Linked DNA regions of Homo sapiens: all the other regions are linked to region 1. Evidence: fine-mapped expression QTL. A gene starts in region 1. Each other region holds a variant in brackets. All regions are shown on one strand. Distances are from middle to middle. Region 1 holds the start of GOLGA1 (golgin A1). Region 2 overlaps GOLGA1 (golgin A1). Region 3 has its middle 13 kb from the start of WDR38.

The links. PIP is the estimated chance that this variant, and not a neighbour inherited with it, causes the effect. A credible set is the group of variants that fine-mapping cannot tell apart.
Region 2: its variant is the best candidate, but not a certain one, in a credible set for the expression of GOLGA1 in whole blood (TOPMed, PIP 0.51).
Region 3: its variant is the best candidate, but not a certain one, in a credible set for the expression of GOLGA1 in whole blood (TOPMed, PIP 0.78).

The regions. Positions count from the first base shown.
Region 1 is chr9:124,937,574-124,944,507 of GRCh38, forward strand. GOLGA1 (golgin A1) reads right to left here and starts at 3,510. Exons shown (of 23, transcript NM_002077.4): 1 at 3,398-3,510; 2 at 2,533-2,582; 3 at 1,004-1,293. The coding sequence starts at 1,138. SCAI (suppressor of cancer cell invasion) reads right to left here. Exons shown (of 18, transcript NM_001144877.3): 18 at 5,035-6,934. RefSeq lists enhancers at 3,102-3,602, 3,603-4,103 and silencers at 3,185-3,554, 3,885-3,944.
Region 2 is chr9:124,903,834-124,910,767 of GRCh38, forward strand. It overlaps GOLGA1 (golgin A1), which reads right to left. Exons shown (of 23, transcript NM_002077.4): 12 at 4,544-4,639. Among named protein-coding and RNA genes, the nearest start is that of GOLGA1, 34 kb to the right of the region's middle. RefSeq lists an enhancer at 1-27. The variant A/G (reference allele first, on the strand shown) is at 3,422.
Region 3 is chr9:124,836,800-124,843,733 of GRCh38, forward strand. No RefSeq gene overlaps it. Among named protein-coding and RNA genes, the nearest start is that of WDR38, 13 kb to the right of the region's middle. RefSeq lists enhancers at 2,953-3,556, 3,557-4,159. The variant G/C (reference allele first, on the strand shown) is at 3,830.

The DNA of each region.
Region 1 (6,934 bases):
TGAGCTGAGATCATGCCACTGCACTCCGGCCTGGCTGACAGAGTGAGACTCTGTCTCAAAAAAAAAAAAAAGAAGAGAAAAGAAATTTATCTAACTTAAGAGGATCCTGTCATATGCAAAAGCCACACTTTATTTTTTAAGCATGACATTTCCCTCATATAGCAACATCTTCATTTTTTGAAATCTTATAGTCACAAATGTATTTTACTAATAAGAAACATATTGTAGGCTGGGCATGGTGGCTCACGCCTGTAATCCCAGCACTTTGGGAGGCCAAGGTGGGCGGATCGCCTGAGCTCAGGAGTTTGAGACCACCCTGGGCAACATGGTAAAAACCTGTCTCTACTAAAATACAAAAAATTAGCCAGGCATGGTGGAACACACCTGTAGTCCCAGCTACTCGGGAGGCTGAGGCACGAGAATTGCTTGAGCCCCAGAGGCAGAGGTTGTGGTGAACCAAGATCAGGCCACTGCACTCCACTTTGGGCTACAGAGCGAGAATCCATCTCAAAAAAAAAAAAAAAAGAAAGAAAAAAGAAAAAAAGCAACATACTGTAATCACTGGGGCCATCTTTCCAACAATCGTCCCAATACAACAATGCACTCTTGCTAACCCCATACCACAACTCAGAGACCTTGTTAAGCAGCAATGACTTAGTTGTTATATAAGTATATATGTCTGCAATGAAAACAGGCCCAGACATTTTCAGAAATGAAATGCAAAAGAAGATGTATAAGGTATATAGACGGAAAAACAGTACAAGAGGACACTGGAGAGAATATGGAGAGGAACTCACAGAAAAATAAGGAAAAAAATATAGAGTACCTTAACATTTACAAACCAAACATTAACAAAAAGGTACCTCAGAGTAAGAAGAATCAGATGTACAGGCTCTTGTACAGCTATAAACCATGAAAGGTATGAAATAATCAAGCAATTTAAAATATTTATTGGAAGAATACCCTGCAAAAGTATCTTTATTTCTTAAGTAAAGGTACTTACAAAGTCATCTCCTGAGTCAGCTCCCATTGAGGCAACTGATTCCTTGCTCACAGACCGTGGGATCCTAGTAGCACCTCCTGGCCTCTGAGCAACAGCAGTCTCTTCTGCAATTTTCTTCTTCAGTTTTGCAAACATGTTTGCTGTGTGGCTATCCTGCACAGATGACGAGCTCTCAGTAGTCCTGGTGCCTGTGTTCAGGATTCAGACAGAGGCGCCTACAAAGTTTCAGACATCCAAGCTAGCTGCATTCCCACTTAAATGTGGGCCAAGGGCTTATGGCAACACAGGATCTACAAATCAGATGAAAGAGACAGTTCAAAAGTTAAACATTGGAAAGATTTCGCATCTGAGTTGTTAAGTTTTAGATTTCAAAACTAAGTTTCATAACTTACATGTACACTTATAGAACACAATTACTAAACATTTAAAAAGCACTCAGGTGCTTCATATGCATATACAGATGAAGAAACCCAGTCTCAAGAAGATGAAGTAACCTACCAAAGATTGTGTGGCTAAGTGGAAGGGCTGGTATTTGAACAGAGGACTCTGATTCACAAATCTCTACGTTTTTTTTTTTTAATTACATGTTGGCTATGACATATAACACACTTGGTAAAATGTCCCAGAGCAGACATCAACATCATATATTCATGACTTAATGATTTCAAATCCTTCCTCCAATAAGCTTAACTACAGTTTAGTGTTCTTTAAGTTGAAGACAAAAATGCATGTAATTCAATTCATATGTAATTCAATATTCAATATGTAATTCAATATGTAAAAGGTGTAATATCCTACTGTTTCAGGATGGTTTGCAATCAACTGTCCAATAGGAAAAGCTGGTAACAGAAAAAAGAAGACACACCAGACAACTCTATTATATAAGTATCTGATATCCTTGAACATTTTCTAGAGACGCTGTGTGGTTTTGAGTTTGATAAAATTACCTCCAATGAGTTTATTTTCTTTCTTTCTTTTTTTTTTTTTTTTTTTTTTTTTTTTTGAGATGGAGTTTCGCTCTTGTTGCCTAAGCTGGAATGCAATGGCACTATCTCGGCTCACCGCAACCTCCACCTCCTGGGTTCAAGCGATTCTCCTGCCTCAGCCTCCCGAGTAGCTGGGATTACAGGAATGCGCCACTATGCCCGGCTTATTTTATATTTTTAGTAGAGACGAGGTTTCTCCGTGTTGGTCAGGCTGGTCTCAAACTCTTGACCTCAGATGATCCACCTGCATTGGCCTCCCAAAGTGCTGGGATTACAGGCATAAGCCACTGCGCCCGGCCTCACAGTTTCTTTTCTTAAGAATGTTTGACATGATATTCAAAGTAAGATTCAAAAACCTTTTCCTCCTAATGGTGTATAAAACACTAATATTCTGGTTCCAACCTTAACTTTCCATGTTTTGTGGAGGATACCTAAGCTCTGCTCTGAGATACACAAATGCCATCTTACCACTTCAGATCCTCCATTAAGGCTGTACAATTCTTCAGAAACTTTACTTTCAATGTGTGTAAACCACTTACTCACCTGGCTTATCTACTAGATTTAAAACAGCTTGGAGGTCAAAGCATTCTGTCCTGCATGAAGACAAAGATAAAATGCATTGGGTATTTCTTTTCAAGTGTATGGCCAAAATGTTGGGTGGGGATAGGGGGAAGAAGTGAAGGAAGAGGAGGGGCAGAAGAAGGATTAAAGGGGGTAAGAAAACCTGTCACAACTCTCAATGGGATACCCTCCCTAACCCTGATCTCCTATGAAATTGTTTTTTGCCTAAGAGCTTCACTTACAAGCGCATAGAACAGAATTGATCACCGCAGCGGGTGCCTAAATTCACTTCTCCCTGGGAGCCCTGAGCAAAACAATTTGAATGAGGTTAAGTTTTCCTGGAGCCAGTATTTATTTCTCAGTTGATTACTACACTCACATACTGTTTACCCGGCCAGACCCTGGGCGTCTGGTCACGGATGTGCACTGACAAAAAGCAAGGCAAAATTGGGTAAAGACAGATGTCTAACCCCCAGGGAGGCAGGCAGGTGCCTGCCACGGCAGTTTGGATCTCACTCCCTCAGGCTACCTCCAGCCCCGCCCGTGCTTTGGACTGTCAAAGAAAGGAAGGATCCAACATCTCTCCCATTTGACAGCAAGGAAACTGAGCCCTAGAGAGGAGGAGCGACTTGTCCAAGGTCGCGCAGGGAGGAATCCCGGAACCCTAGGCTCCAGACTCCCAGGCCGGGGCAGCCCGCCTCCGCCCCCACTCTCACCCTTTCAGCACCCCGGTGCCGCCCCCCGCCTTGGGGCTCGGGCAACCCTGACCGGGCCGCTGTGGGGACAGACCGAGGCCACTGGGAGAATAAGGGGCCTGCTCGCATTCCCGGAGTCCTGGCCCGCGCACCTGCCTCTCTCTGGGAAGCCAGCAAAGCCCCGCCTCCCGGGCCTCTCGTGAGCCCCGGCCCGCGTCACCAACCCCCACCGCCCAGCCGGCGAGCCGAGCAGCGACCCGGAACCGCACGTCTCCCAGCGCGCCGGAAGTGACTGCGCGGTGGGGGGAGGGGGTTGGTCCGACGCGCGCATGCGCCCGTGCGCGGCCTTGGCGGCTACTGTTACCACCTCTGAGCGGCGACTGGGCCGGAACGGCTGGAGTTCTCGGGTGCCCAGCCGGGCGCTCCCTCAGCCCAGTTCGCCACGTCAGCGAGCGGCCAGAGCCACAGATGATGACTGAGTCTCCGAGGCCTCTCGGTCTTTTTCTATTTTAACAGGGGCGCGTGCAGAGCGTGGTAAGTGGGAGGGGCTTCGTGTCAAAAGTAAAAGAACCCAGTCGGTGCCACAGGCCCCGCTGTGCTGTGCTGGCTACAAACCCGGCCGGGGCTGCACTGCTTGGCCAGGCGCCCCCCCGCGCCGCCCGGTCCCGCCGCACCCTAGGCAGCTGCCTTGCCACCGTGTGACCCGGGAAGTCTGCGCCTCCAGCTTCACTCACAAGCCAGTAGCTCCAGAAACTAGTCCTGGGACCTTACACCTTGAGACCAGTTTTTAGACTTTGGCGCCTGTCACCTACTGTAGATGATGCGTTTTATATCGCAACCGAGTACATAACGTCCAGCAGAACCACGTTCTTACTATGTAATGCACTTAAAAACGCTGGTGGCAGCTCACTATATTGGATTAGCTTCACCATCCGCTGCTGGGCCGTCTCCTTTCTGCTTAGGAAGGAAGTTGAAAACATCAAAAGTGCACGGCGCGCGCTTCTGTGGTCCCAGCTACTCGGAAGACCGAGGTGGGAGGATCTCTTGAGACCAGGGCTTCCAGACCAGCCTGGGCACCGTGGCGAGACTCCGTCTCTTTAAATAAATAGCAATCATGCAGGCAGTAGGAAAATAAACAAAAGAGGAAAAACTATCTTGTTCCAAGTCACAGTCCAGGCCGGGCGCGGTGGCTCACTCCTGTAATCCCCACACTTTGAGAAGCCGAGGCGGGTGGTTCACCCGAGGTCAGGAGTTCAGACCAGCCTAACATAGCGAAACCTCGTCTCTACTAAAAATACAAAATTAGCCGGGCATGGTGGCCCATGCCTGTAATCCCAATTACTTGGGAGGCTGAGGCAGGATAATCGCTTGAACCCGGGAGGTGTAGGTTGCAGTGAGTCAAGATCGCGCCATTGCACTCCAGCCTGGGCAACAAGAGCGAAACTCTATCTCAAACAAAAAGTCACGGTCCAAATCAGTACCCTAAGTCAGGTCCCTGAACTCGTCAATGCCAAGCCAGCCATTCCACCTTAAGGAACTCTGGTTCCATCCCCAGACTCAACACAAGCCCAAGAATAAGCAGATTCCACCCAATTCTTCAACAGTCCCTTCCCTCGCGTGTTCCAGTTCTGACCTGCAGGAGCAGGGCAGGGAAAAAACCAAAACCAGGATTCAAACATTGACAAACTAACAAGAAGCATCAACCCCAAGATAGTTCAAAGCCTCTGAGATATTTGAATGAAGCAAACCCTAACAGTTCAGCTGTCAATACCGAAAAAGTACCAAAAACTTTAAGCAAATAATGTTTATTTTTATATTGATGATACACTTAATATATATGTGGATTCAAGGTACAAAATTCATGTACAAGAGTTCACACCTGATGAATGTAGACACATTCCTAGAGAACATTTATCAATGTGAAAATTTCTTTAATACACTGACAACAAAAATCAAATATTCTCTAATCTCGTTATTCAATAAACATCAAAACAACGTTTCAGTTTTCATCCTCTAGTACTGAAGTGCCCTCAAGGTGGTAGGCACTGTATAGCAGGAGAAAACATTGGAAAGCCTACTGAATCCGCTCTGCAGAATCACAGTGTTTACTCTGAAATTCATTTAGTGAAGTAGTGGAAGGCTATCTTTTATGACAAATCACATCTCATACAAGAGTCAAAAGTGATGAACTCAAGAAAATAAAATGTTTCAAGAACTTCTCAATTTCTAAAATCTATGGAGTATTAACCATAACAGACAAAGAAGAAAAAGGCTGCTGGAAAGGAAGAAAAAAACATCCTGTTTAAGAGAACGTATGGCTTAAGCAATTTAGAACACAACTGACAAGACTTTTACAATACCACAAATGTTCAAGTCAAATGATAGTGACAGTATAATTTTCCCCTTAGTCATTGGTAGTAAATAGCCCCTTCAAAATTTATTCTACTGTTAACACATATAAAAACTATGAATCCAAACAGTTTTGCTAACGGGGCTGAGTTGATGGATTTTTTTCTAAAGTATTAACTCACAATATCCAAATATTAATACAAATGAACGACAAGATTGTTTCAAAGATTACAGTGATTTGTGAATAGCTAAATAGGCAACCAAATAGCTTCATTATTTGCACGACAGATTAGCAGCACTTGGATAAGAATTGTTACATGAAAAATATTGTGCTTCAGTCTCTTGAGGAGAGCTAATATAACTCTATAATCCCTATAGTGTTAAAATTCTATAACATTTCAGTTACAGACAAGCACAATTGTTAAAAAGTATTTCACACCACTAGAAAATCGAGTAATTATATCCTCCAAATGAATTACTTCTATGATTTAAACAAGTGCATTTCTGCCTAATAATCAGAATGTAGACAATAAGTTCAGCATTATTTTCAAGGGAAAAAGATCAAACATAACTTATTTTAACTCCTATTTGATTATCTTAACCTTTAGTGATGATTAGAACTTAAAAAAGGGAAACTCAACCTTCCAATGGAAACTGCTCAGAGGAAATAATAAAGTGTCCTGAAATTACAATAATTCTTAGCACAAAGTAAAAAGTGATTTATAACTGCTTCATCTGATTCAATGATTAATGAAATCACTATTTATACTGGTGCTACACAACGAAGATAACCTATATGGATAAGTTATTTTACTTGTAAACTCTACTATGAAAATGTTAGGACTTTGTATTTGCCTTTCCTATTATCTAAGATGTTTCTACCTCAACTGGAAGAATCATCCAAAATCTAAAGGTTTCTCTGATTGTTGAACAGCAAGGTTTATTAAAAATAAGCAAAAAAGTTGGAGAACTAGCCATATGGTCTATGTGGCAAAAGGAATGCATTCAGATAACTATAAAAAGCCACATAAATCAAGTTCTAGATTATTGTACTGAACCATTAGAAGGTCTTTTTAATGATACAGTAACAAGTTAACAAAAACCATTCTTCAGGAAATAGTAATAAAAATTCCTTTTTTTTTTTTTTTTGAGAATGAGTCTTGCTCTGTCACCCAGACTGGAGTGCAATGGCACGATCTCGGCTCACTGCAACCTCCGCCTCCCAGGTTACAAGCAGTTCTCCTGCCTCAGCCTCCCAAGTAGCTGGGATTACAGGCGCACACCACCATGCCTGGCTAATTTTTTTTTTTTTTTTTTTTTTTTTGTATTTTAGTAGCGAC
Region 2 (6,934 bases), 34 kb before region 1:
AGGTCAGGAGATTGAGACCATCTTGGTCAACATGGTGAAACCCCATCTCTACTAAAATGCAAAAAATTAGCCAGGCGTGGTGGAGCGTGCCTGTAGGCGCGCGCCTGTAGTCCCAGCTACTCGGGAGGCTGAGGTAGGGGAATTGCTTGAACCTAGGAAGCGGAGGTTGCAGTGAGCCGAGATCGTGCCACTGCACTCCAGCCTGATGACGGAGCAAGACTCCATCTCAAAAAAATTCTAAAAAAAAAAAAAATTCTGTTAAAAAAAAAAAAGGAATGAAAGTCTGACATATGCTACAACATAGATGAACACTGAAGATGTATATACTAAGTCAAATAAGCCAGACACAAAAGGACAAACATTGTATGATTCCACCAACAGGAGGTATCTAGAGTGTCCAAACTCAAAGAGACAGAAAATAGAATGGTGGTTCCCAGACTGGGGTAGGAGGAATTGGGGAGTTACTGTTTAATAAGTATAGAGTTTCTGTTTGGGAAGATGAAAAAGTTTTGGAGATGGATGGTGGTGATGGTTGTACGACAATGTACACTGATCAAAAAGGATATTCAGAAACAGAATTGAAATTATAATAAAACAGTCTTTTCAGAAAAATATAGTTTAAAATGTATTTATCAGGAAATAAGAAAGATTTTAAAAATGAGATAAATATTCAATTCAAGAAATTAAACAAATTGGCCAGCACAGTTACTCACATCTGTAATCCCAGCACTTTGGGAAGCTGAGGTGGGCAGATCACTTGAGGTCAGGAGTTTGAGACCAGCCTGGCCAACATGGTGAAACCCCGTCTCCACTAAAAATACAAAAAGGCTGGGCGCAGTGGCTCACGCCTGTAATCCTACCACTTTGGGATGCTGAGGCAGGTGGATCACGAGGTCAGGAGTTCAAGACCAGCCTGGCCAACATGGTGAAACCTTGTCTCTACCAAAAATACAAAAATTAGCTGGGCATGGTCACATGCCTGTAATCCCAGCTACTTGGGAGGCTGAGGCAGGAGAACTGCTTGAACCAGGACACAGGAGGCAGAGAGAGCAGTGAGCCAAGATTGCACCACTGGACGCCAACCCAGGCTACAGAGCCAGACTCTGTCTCAAAAAAAAAAAATAAATAAAATAAAATAAATTAAAAAAATACAAAAAAAAAAATGAGCCGGGTGTGGTGGTACACACCCATAATTCCAGCTCTTTGGGAGGTTGAGGCAGGAGAATCGCTTGTGCCTGGGAGGCGGAGGTTGTGGTAGGCTGAGATCAGGACACTACACTACAGCTTGGGTGATACAGCGGGAGTCCATCTCAAAAAATAATAATAATAAAATAAAATAAAAATAAATAAATAAATAAATATATGGTGCTGTATTCCCAGTACTTTGGGAGGCTGAGATGGGTGGATCACTTGAGGTCAGGAGTTTGAGACCAGCCTGGCCAACATAGTGAAACCCCGTCTCTACTAAAAATATAAAAATTAGCCAGGCGTGGAGGCAGGCATCTTTTAACCCAGCTACTTGGGTGGGTGAGGCAGGAGAATTGTTTGAACCTGGGAAGCGGAGGTTGCAGTGAGCCGAGATCATGCCACTGCACTCCAGCCTGGATGAGAGTGAGACTCTGCCTCAAATAAATAAATAAATAAATACATACATACCAAAAACCTGCAAATGTTACACCAAATAATGAAACTTTAGGCATATTTCCTTTAAGACTGGGAACAAAACAAAGATTCCCACTAACCCTTTTATTGCTTCACTCAGTCTGGAGGTCTTTAATGCTATATGAACAGAAAATGGAATAAGAGGTGGGAAGATTGGAAGGAGTAAGATAAAGTTGTCATTTTTTCATAGATAATATGATTATCTACCTAAGAAAAACAACAAAAAAATCACACAGTAGTAGAGTAAGAAAGTTCAGCAGGGGTGTGATATCCAAGATCAACTTTAAAAAATGGCAGTTCTCTAGAATAACCAGAAATAACCAATTATAAATATGATTAAAAATAAAGTTCGGGTGTGGTGGCTCGTGCCTGTAATTCCAGCACTTTGGGAGGCCGAGGCTGAGGTCAGGAGTTCGAGACCAGCCTGGCCAACATGACAAAACCCCGTCTCTGCTAAAAATACAAAAATTAGTCGGGCGTGGTGGCACGTGCCTGTAATTCCAGCTACTCAGAAGGCTGACGCAGAAGAATTGCTTCAACCTGGGAGGCGGAGGTTGCAGGGAGCCGAGATGGCACTATTGCACTCTAGCCTGGGGGATAGAGTGAGACTGTGTCTCCAAAAAATAAATAAATAAATAAATAAATAAATAAATAAGGGCCTGGCGCAGTGGGTCATGCCTATAATCCTAGCACTTTGGGAGGCCAAGGCAGGCGGATCACCTAAGGTCAGGAGTTTGAGACCAGCCTCAACATGGTGAAACCCTGTCTCTACTAAATACATAAAAATTAGCTTAGCGTGGTGGCACGTGCCTGTAATCCCAGCTACTTGGGAGGCTGAGGCAGGAGAATCGCTGGAACCCAGGAGGCAGAGGCTGCAGTGAGCCAAGATAGTGCCACTGCACTCCAGCCTGGGCGACAGAGTGAGACTCTATCTCAAAAAAAAAGAAAGATTAAAAATAAGATACCATCACAGGCCGGGCGCGGTGGCTCACGCCTATAAACCCAGCACTTTGGGAGGCCAAGGCAGGCGGATCATCTGAGGTCAGGAGTTTGAGACCAGCCTGGCCAACATGATGAAACCCTGTCTCTACTAAAAATATAAAAAAATTAGCTGGGCGTGATGCTGGACACCTGTAATCCCAGCTACTCGGCAGGCTGAAGCAGGAGAATCGCTTGAACCCGAGAGGTGGAGGTTGCAGTGAGCCGAGATTGTGCCATTGCACTCCAGCCTGGGTGACAAGAGCAAAACTCTGTCTCAAAAGAAAAAAAAGATACCATCACAGTATCAACACAAACTCTAAAGTTTCTAGGAATTAGCAACTTAGGCAAGAAAATAAGACATCTATTGAGAAAAATGTAAAATTTTAATAAAACACACAGAAAATAATCTGAATAAATGGAATATATTTACATTGTTAGAAGGAATAATTAATATTATAAAATGGACAATTTTTCCCAATTAGCCTATACATTTAATGCAATCCCAATAAAAATTCAAGTTGAATTTTTTAGTAACTCAAAAACTTAAAAATTTTAAAGGCCCATAAATAGTTAAAGTCAACCTTTGAAAAAAAAAGAGAATTTGTCTTATTGGGTGTTGAGATATAGTACAGATATCACTATAGTAATAAAAACATTGTAGTGTTTACACAAGAGCAGACAATCAGACCAATGGACAGAGAATGCAGAGACAAACCCATGTGCAGACAGAAACAATACGTGATAAAGTTAGCAAGAGGAATCAATTCAGAAAGGACAG[A/G]CTGTTTAGTAAATGATTTTGAGAAATATGCAGAATTTCTCCATATTTAGATCCCTACCTAAGACCATACAGAAAGACAGTTTGTAAGTGAATTAGAGATTTATTATGTGAAGGAAAAATTATAAAGTTAATAGGGAAAAAACAGTAGATCTCTGTGACTTAGGAACAGGAATAGATTTTCTAAATGGAACTTCAAACTCCACAGCAAAAATGTGATGAATCTGGTAACACTGAACTTAAGAAAGTCTATTCAACAAAGGATACATGGACAAAGTTAACAGAATGACTCAGGACTGAAACTGATAAAGCATTAGGAACAAGAATATACAATGAAATCCTACAAACCAAATAAGAAAAGACTGAAACCCCCAAAGAAAATAAGGAAAGGATATGAATGGGCAATTCCAAAAGCAGAAACCCCCAGGAATTAACAGGCACATGAAGACAAGGCCAAACTCATTAATCACCATAGCAATGCAAATTAAAGCAATGAAATACCACTCCACACTCAGTAAACTGGCAAAAATTGTAAAGGCTTGGAAATGCCAATGCTGGAAAAGTCAGAAAGGCATATATAGGAACGCTCATGCATGCTGGAGGAGGAGAGCCAGGTGCAGGCTTGCTGGGAACAATCTTCTCCTATAGTACTTAGTCTCTTTAGGTTTTATGCATGATCTGAGGTGGCAGGAAGAAGGAAGCAATCTGGATGTCTACCACATAGATAACTACAAAGTACAATGAAGTGGGTACAGACAGAAGTTGAGGCAGCTAAAAGTAATAGAGAAAACATACCCATAGCTGCATCATTTACAGAAATTAAAAACCCAGTGCTACATATTTTAAAACAACCCAACAAAAAGAGCATCTATATGAACCACAACGGAATGGTATCCTATGGGAGGGAGGCCAATGGGGATAAAAGGGTATAAATAAACATATAACTCAATCATAGTAATGTGACAAGGATGAAGAAAATGACTAACTCATCCCTGTATAGGTAAGATCCAAAAATAATCCCTTCTAGTGAAAAAACTCTGACCAAGAAGATTCTCAGTCACACCATGTTGCCATTCAGCCAGGTTACCACCCAAACTTAGGAAACACCAGGAGTAAGGTCAGTACCCGAGTCTCCAGGGTGTTAATGGCCTTAGCCTGGCTGCTTCTGGCTGCCAAGAGCTGTTGTCTGGTATCCTCCAAATTCTGCTCAGCAAGTGTTTTCTGTAAGTTGAAAGAAGAGTAAAAGAAGACTATCATTCCTCAGTTGAATAAATATTTACAGATTATCTACAACATATTGTGACTTGTGCTAGGCACAAGAGACATGAATACATTTTTAATAATTCAGCTAATTGAGAAATAATTCACATATCATAAAGTACACACAGATAAATTTGAAATAGTCCCTTGACCTTGAGGCTGGAACAAAAGACTAATAAAAAATTACACAATAGAGTACAGTAAGTGTCCACAAAGAGGAAGAAGCACAGGGTGGGAGATACTCCCTGCCACAGGGCAGGTAGGCAGCTTTAGAACTCACAAAGTCGTTAGGGTTCAGGGAGCCTCCCAGGCAGGGGGATGACCAACGGCTATGTGAACAGCCTGCTACGTTGAGGGAACTACTACTCCTCAGAAGCCAAAATGATGATGGGTTTAGGTCAAAAAACAAGACTAGAAAGATAGGCAAAAGGGCCAGCTCATGAGAAGCTTTTGAATGTTGCAAAAAGGAGTTAGAACTTGATTCTGTAAGCAACATTTTTCAAAGTAGAAATTCTAGGCCGGGTGTGGTGGCTCACACCTGTAATCCCAGAACTTTGGGAGGCTGAGGCAGGCAGATCACTTTAGGTCAGGAGTTCGAGACCAGCCTGGCTAACGTGGTGAAATCCCATCTCTACTAAAAATATTTTAAAAATTAGCTGGATGTGGTGGTGGGTACCTGTAATCCCAGCTACTTGGGAGGTTGAGGCAGGAGAATTACTTGAACCCAGGAAGCGGAGTTGCAGTGAGCAGAGATTGTACCACTGAACTCCAGCCTGGGTGACAGAGTGAGACTCTGTCTTAAAAAAAAAAATGGGGCTGGGAGCGGTGGTTCACGCCTGTAATCCCAGCACTTTGGGAAGCCGACGTGGACAGATCACGAGGTCAGAAGTTCGAGACCAGCCTGACCAACATGGTGAAGCCCTGTCTCTACTAAAAATACAAAAAAATTAGCTGGATGTGGTGGTGTGCACCTGTAGTCCCAGCTACTCGGGATGCTGAGGCAGGAAAATCACTTGAACCCCGGGAAGCAGAGGTTGCAGTGAGCCGAGATCACGCCACTGCACTCTAGCCTGGGCAACAGAGTGAGACTCCGTCTCAAAAAAAAAAAAAAAAAAAAGAAATGTAGACTTAGCTGAGATAGCTGTTACTGAGATAGTTGTTAATCTCAGCTAGTTGCACAGATTTGAGGCCTTGCTCCAAGCCTAAGGAAATCAGAATTTCTGAGGGTAGGGCCAGAGATATATACTTTATTTACTTATTTATTATTTTTGAGATGGAATTTCACTCTTGTCGCTCAGGCTGGAAAGTAGTGGTGCGATCTTGGCTCACTGCAACCTCCGCCTCCTGGGTTCAAGTGATTCTCTTGCTTCAGCCTCCTGAGTAGCTGGAATTACAGGCACCCGCCACCATGCCCAGCTAATTTATTTATTTATTTATTTTTTTGAGACAGAGTCTCGCTCTGTCACCAGGCAGGAGTGCAGTGGCATGATCTCAGCTCACTGCAACCTCCCAGGTTCAAGCAATTCTCCTCCCTCAGCCTCCGGAGTAGCTTGGGACTACAGGCATGTGCCACCACGCCCAGCTAATTTTTGTATTTTTAGTAGAGACGGGCTTTCACCATGTTGGCCAGGATGGTCTCGATCTCCTGATCTTGTGATCCGCCCGCCTCGGCCTCCCAAAGTGCTGGGATTATAGGTGTGAGCCACCGCGCCTGGCCTAATTTTTGTATTTTTAATAGAGGCGGGGTTTTGCCATGTTGGCCAGGCTGGTCTTGAACTCCTGACCTCAGGTGATCTGCCCGCCTCGGCTACCCAAAGTGCTGGGATTACAGGCGTGAGCCACCACGCCTGGCCTAGAGATATATACTTTAAACAAACTTCCCAAGTAATTTCTATGCACATTAAACATTATAATAATGATGATGGCACAATAATAATATTGATCATGTTTACAGCTGACATACATTGAGACCCTACTCTGTTCCGGTTATCATTCTAAGCACTTCACATATTGTAACTTATTTAACCCTAACAACAATTCTGAGTTTAATAGTATAATAAAACCAATTTTATTGGGGAGGAAGCAAACACAAAGAGATTAAATTACTTGCTCTAAGTCAGGGGTCCCCAACCCTTGGGCCACAGACCTTGCAGTCTGTTAGGAACCAGGCCGCACAGCAGGAGGTGAGTGGTGAGTAAGCACTACCACCTAAGATCTGCCTCCAGTCACATCAGTGGTGGTGTTAGATTTTCATAG
Region 3 (6,934 bases), 100 kb before region 1:
TGGGTACTATAGCCTACCCATGTTGATCGCACCCCTACTTCTTAGCTAGGGAAACAGTTTCAGAGAGGTGGACCGCCCAGGTCCCACAAATAGAACTGGGAAAGTTATATCCTTGTCTGTAGATATGTCTAAATATATACCGCAGAACGCTAGCATCTTTAGGGAGGATTTGAGGTAACTTTTAAATACCTCTTACTGTCTAGTATTTAAAATTTCACGTGTAACTTATGATCACAAAATTAAATGATTTTTCACTTTGGGAAAAAAAGGACTTCCAGCTGGGTGCGATGGCTCACACCTGTAACCCCAGCACCTTGGGAGGCTGAGGCGGGCAGATCACCTGAGGTCAGGAGTTTGAGACCAGCCTGGCTGACGTGGTCAGACTCCCTCCCGCCCCCAACTAAAAATACAAAAATTAGGCGTGCATGGTGGTGCATGCCTATAATCCCAGCTTCCCAGGAGGTTGAGGCAGGAGAATCACTTGAACCCCGGGGCAGAGGTTGCAGTGAGATTGTGCCACTGCACTCCAGCCTGGGTGACAGAGCAAGACTCCTGTCTCAAATAAGTAAACAAAATTTAAAGAAACGAGAGACAAGGAAATGTATAAAAAGCAAGAAAAAAGGCACAAAAGGTAGATTTTTTAAAACCAAGTAAATCAGTAAGTGTGAACAAACTAGATAAATCATTCAATTGAGACACATTGAAACAAAATGATACAGAAAGGTCAACATAAAAGGGTATGTTATTAGAGGTGTCCAAGAAAAGGATGGGAAAAGATATAGCATGAGAACAACAACAAGAAACATTTTATAATGACAAGTTTAATTTGTGCATATACATACATATATACGTATACATATACATATATGTATTATTTTAAGAGTTTCACTCTTGTTATCCAGGCTGGAGTGCAATGGCACAATCTCAGCTCAGTTTAACCTCCACCTCCTGGTGTGTCCGGAATTGGTGGGTTCTTGGTCTCACTGACTTCAAGAATGAAGCTGCGCACCCTCGCAGTGAGTGTTACAGCTCTTAAGGCAGCGCGTCTGGAGTTTGTTCCTTCTGATGTTCAAATGTGTTCGGAGTTTCTTCCTTCTGGTGGGTTCGTGGTCTCGCTGGCTCGGGAGTGAAGCTACAGACCTTCATGGTGAATGTTACAACTTTTAAGGCAGCACGTCTGGAGTTGTTCATTCCTCCCCGTGGGCTCATGGTCTCGCTGGGCTCAGGAGCAAAGCTGCAGGTCTTCACGGTGAGTGTTACAGCTTATAAAAGCAGTGCGGACCCAAAAACTGAGTAGTAGCAAGATATATTGTAAAGAGCAAAAGAACAAAGCTTCCACAGTGCAGAAGGGGACCCAAAGGGTTGCTACTGCTGGTTCGGGCAGCCTGCTTTTATTCTCTTATCTGGCCCCACCCACGTCCTGCTGATTGGTAGAGCCCAGTGGTCTGTTTTGACAGGGTGCTGATTGGTGCGTTTACAATCCCTGAGCTAGACATAAAGGTTCTCCACGTCCCCATCAGATTAGTTAGATACAGAGTATGGATACAAAGGTTCTCCAAGGCCCCACCAGAGCAGCTAGATACATAGTGTCGATTGGTGCATTCACAAACCCTGAGCTAGACACAGGGTGCTGATTGGTGTGTTTACAAACCTTGAGCTAGATACAGAGTGCCCATTGGTGTATTTACAATCCCTGAGCTAGACATAAAGGTTCTCCAAGGCCCCACCAGAGTAGCTAGATACAGTGTCGATTGGTGCATTCACAGACCCTGAGCTAGACACGGGGTGCTGATTGGTGTATTTACAATCCCTGAGCTAGACATAAAGGTTCTGTACGTCTCCACCAGACTCGGGAGCCCAGCTGGCTTCACCCAGTGGATCCCGCACCAGGGCTGCAGGTGGAGCTGCCTGCCAGTCCCGCGCGGTGCGCCCGCACTCCTCAGCCCTTCGGTGGTCGATGGGACTGGGCGCCGTGGAGCGAGGGGGCGGCGCTCATCGGGGAGGCTTGGGCGGCGCAGGAGCCCATGGAGGCGGTGGGAGGCTCAGGCATGGCGGGCTGCAGGTCCCGAGCCCTGCCCCGCGGGAAGGCAGCTAAGGCCCGGTGAGAAATCGAGCGCAGCGCTGGTGGGCTGGCACTGCTGGGGGACCCAGTACACCCTCTGCAGCCGCTGGCCCGGGGCCGGTGGGGCCGGCCGGCTGCTCCGAGTGCATCCGCCAAGCCCGCCCGCCAAGCCCACACCCATCCGGAACTCCAGCTGGCCCGCAAGCGCCGCGCGCAGCCCCGGTTCCCCGCTCGCGCCTCTCCCTCCACACCTCCCTGCAAGCTGAGGGAGCCGGCTCTGGCCTTGGCCAGCCCAGAAAGGGGCTTCCACAGTGCAGCAGTGGGCTAAAGGGCTCCTCAAGTGCCGCCAAAGTGGGAGCCCAGGCAGAGGAGGCACCGAGAGCGAGTGAGGGCTGTGAGGACTGCCAGCACGCTGTCACCTCTCACTGGGTTCAAGCAATTCTCCTGCCTCAGCCTCCCGAGTAGCTGGGATTGCAGGTGCCTGCCACCATGCCCAACTAATTTTTGTATTTTTAGTAGAGACAGGGTTTCACCATGTTGGCCAGGCTGGTCTTGAACTCCTGACCTCAAGTGATCTGCCCGTCTCGGCCTCCCAAAGTACTGGGATTACAGGCATGAGCCACCGTGCCTGGCCCCTGCTAAATGTTTATCTTTTATTTTTTGTGGAGATGGGTGCTTGCTATGTTGCCCAGGTTGGTCTTGAACTCCTGGCTTCTAAGCAGTCCTCCTGCCTTGGTCTCCTAGAGTGCTCGGATTGTGGGCATGAGCCACTGCACCCAGCCTCAAGTGGGGATTTGAACCCAGGTCTGGATGGATGCTAAGCCCTCGCAGAGTGCGCAATGGAGACTTGCATAGAACGGCACAGCTGCGGGCAGTGGAAGGCTGAGATTTAGGCCTGAACTTCTGGAAAGAAATGGGAGAGGAAATGACTCGATGTTCCTCCTACCCCTACTGGTCAGGAAGGGAAGGGCAATGCCCCAGACAGGCCGAGGAGGGCTTCCTACCCACCCCTACCCCCAGACACAGGGGCCCTGGGCTGGCAGGAGTCCATTATCATGAAGTCTCAGGGGTGGGGGCAGCTGAGCAAACATCAGTTCCCTGGCCTGATACAAAATGGCCATTGAAGCATTTCAGGGCCTGGGGGAGGTGTGGGGCTGCTGAGACAAGCTTCTGAATGGAGGGGCCGGGCTACTGCACGGCACCCCAGCTGCCAACACTTTCAACTTTGTGATGAGGAAGCTGAGGCCCAGACAAGCCGATACATTAGCCTGGACTCACACAGCCAGTCAGATCCCATCATTCTGGCCCACAGGGTGGGGGTCTGGGGGGTGCCCAATGGAGGCCGGTGCCAAGTTCCAGGTGTGAGCCCATGGACCCGGGAACCCACAAGTTGCCTGTACTTAGCCCCAGCTCCAGGTGGCTCAGAGCAGCCCTTGCCAGCCCTGAGAGGCTCAGCAAGGAGCTCAAGGTCACACGGCAAGCAGAAACTGCCAGTGTCTCCCTGCCCGGCCAGGGCGGCTCCCGCTTTCTGGCCTGAGCTCTGCTTCCCACATGACCCCCACTCTCCCAAGCCCCATCCGTCAGCTGTCTCCTTGGAGGGCGCTGCGAGGCTGGTCAGATTTCCACAGGGCACATGGGTGCCGGGTGTGACTGGGACAGCTGGGAGGGCAGGTGGGCGGAGGGGGCTGCTGGCGGCACGAGGCCCCAGCCAGGGATGGGATCCTGCAGCAACTGCTCCAGGCTGCCCGAGGGGGGCCAGGCCCTCAT[G/C]GGGGAGCTGATTCTGGGTCCGTATCCCAGCTGTGCCACCGAACTGGCTGGTGACCCTCGTTTGGCGTCTCTTCCTCTCCTGGATTCTCGAGTTCCCCAGCTGGTGGCGCTGTGATGGTCAGGTTATTATTAATTATTATCATTATTACCTCCTGGTGGCCTGGGAAGAAATGGTCAGGCCAGAGAACCTAAGCAGAGGTGGCTGGGGGGCCACTTGACCCCTGAAGTTCCATTGGCTTCCTAAAGCTCCATTTGGCCATTTGGGCTGTCCCTTGCTGCTGCTGAAGGCCCCTGTTGCTCACCACGGCTCCCCCAATGCTTGTGACAGCACAGTTCAGAACTCGCGTGAGATTGGAGTCATTCTGGCTGGAGGGGGGCCAGAGGCCCAGAATTCCAGCCCTGCGTCTCCTCTTTCTCCACATTTCACCCCCCGACCCCCCTGCACCAGGTAGCTCTGAGGCCACCCTTGGCACCGTCAGGGTTCCATGACACCTACTTTGAAAACCATGGCCAGAATGCCATCTAAACCCCTTAGCTAGGCATTCCAAGCCTCCATTCCCCACGCCTCCCCCAAGTCTCTAATTCTTATTTTCCCCAGGTGTCCCCCAGGTGACCCAGTGCCCACCACACCCGATTCCTGGCTGCTTCAGAAACAGGCTCTGCAGCTTTACCCTGGGGCCTTTATAGATGCCGTTTCTGCCTCTCAGAATCTTCTTTTCCGCTTAGCACCTGGCAAATACTTCCTTAACTCCAGAGGCCTGGAAGCCCATTGTCTCCTCCCAGAAGACCTCCCTGATTGCGGAAAGAGGGTCCCTTGCTCTTCCCTGAGCTCTCTGGGGCCCTGCAGAGGTCAGGGGGCCCAGAGGGGTTGAGGGGCGTGATCCGGCAAGGACGGGAGGGAGGGAACAGGGAGGGATGTAGATGGAAGGCAATGGGTGGAGGGCAGGAGCAAGGGAAGAATGGGGGGCGGGGGAAGGCACCACCTTCTGCCCCTCCCCTCACCCCTAGCGCCTATACCCGCGTCCTCTCTCCTCTCCTCCACCCCACCCTGGGGCCAAGCATCTTCTCCAGGCTCCAGGGAGGAGAGGAATTCCAGGAGCCCCATTTCAGGGTCCCAGGTGGGCCACCAGTCCAGAGGATCAAGGGATAAGGGAGAACGGTCATGAGCCAACACCCACTCCAAGTTCCACATCTCATGGCTCAGCTCCCAGATGATCTGCCTTCCTGGGCTGCTTTCCGGGGGGGGTCGGGTCCCCCTAGAGCCCCAGGAGGTCGGCGTAGGCCTCCAGGACGCAGGCCTTCTGCTACCATCACAGACACCACAGGCCTGCTACTCACCCGGGACAGGAAGCCACTTTCTGAGCACCAGCTATGTTCAAGGCCCCGGGCCAGGCACTCACTGGTTTGGTCTCATTTAACTGGGCAACACCTCCCTTCTCAGGGACCAAGCACCACTTCACTGAGGGAAAATGGGGTTCAGTGGAGAAGCTGTTAGAAGGACACACCCCCCCCCAAACTGTGCACAGTCTCCTTTAAAAGAGCGAAGTTGGTGGAAGAAGACAGGGAGCAGACACATGTGCCCTTTGTGTTTTATTCTGATTAGTTAATTACCCATTTGCTTTTGTTTCTTACCTTTCCTATGGTGGTGAGTGCCCTTTGTTTTTTATTTTTATTTTTACTTTTATTTTTATTTTGAGATGGAGTCTCATTCTGTTGCCCATGCTGGAGTGCAGTGGTGCGATCTCAGCTCACTGCAACCTCTGCCTTCCAGGTTCAAGCGATTCTTCTGCCGTAGCCTCCTGAGTAGCTGGGATGACAGGCATGCGCCACCACACTTAGCTAATTTTTGTATTTTTAGTAGAGACAGGGTTTCACCATATTGGCCAGGCTGGACTCGAACTCTTGGCCTCATGTAATCCACCTGCCTCAGCCTCCCAAAGTGCTGAGATTACAGGCGTGAGCCACCACGCCTGGTTTATGCTTTAATATTGTTGTGTCCAAGACTGTTTAAGAATTTTTTTTTTTTTTTTTGAGGCAGAGTCTCCCTCTGTGGCCCAGGCAGGAGTGCAGTGGCACAATTTAAGAATTTTAAAAATTGGGGGCAGGCCCAGGGGCTCATTCCTGTAATCCCAGCACTTTGGGAGGCCAAAATGGGCAGATCACAAGGTCAGGAGATCGAGACCATCCTGGCCAACATGGTGAAACCCTGTCTCTACTAAAAATACAAAAATTAGCTGGGCGTGGTGGCACGCGCCTGTAATCCCAGCTACACGAGAGGCTGAGGCAGGGGAATCGCTTGAAGCCGGGAGGCAGAGGTTGCAGTGAGCCAAGATCGCACCATGGCTCATGCCTGTAATCCCAACACTTTGGGAGGCCGAGGTGGGCAGATCATGAAGTCAGGAGATCGAGACAGTCCTGGCCAACATGGTGAAACCCCGTCTCTACTAAAAATACAAAAATTACCTGGGCGTGGTGGCACGTGCCTGTAGTCCCAGCTACTGGGCAGGCTGAGGCAGGAGAATCGCTTGAACCTGGGAGGCAGAGGTTGCAGTGATCCAAGATCGCACCATTGCACTCCAGCCTGCCAACAGAGCGAGACTCCGTCTCAAAAAAAAAAAAAAAAAATTGGCCGGGCACGGTGGCTCACGCCTGTAATTCCAGCACTTTGGAAGGCCGAGGCAGTTGGATCACCTGAGGTCAGGAGTTTGAGACCAGCCTGGCCAACATGGTGAAACCCCACCTCTATTAAAAATACAAAAATTACCTGGGCATGGTGGCGGACCCCTGTAATCCCAGCTCCTTGGGAGGCTGAGGCAGGAGAATCACTTGAACTCGGGAGGCAGAGGTGACATCCAGCCTGGGTGACAGAGCTTAAAAATTAAATAAATGAAACAGCATAAAAATCCTCTCTAGCTGGGTTGTGGCCCTGCCCCCACAAGCTGGACAGGCCTGTCACAGAGGCCCTGACTGGCTGGCTGCCCCCTACCCTGCCCTGCACCCTCGATCCACCCCAGACCTGGGCCTGACATCCACAGGGTGGCGTGTTCAAGACCTTCCACTGGTGCTCAGCTCAGAGCCTCAGAGAGTTCTCCTCTGTAAGACTCA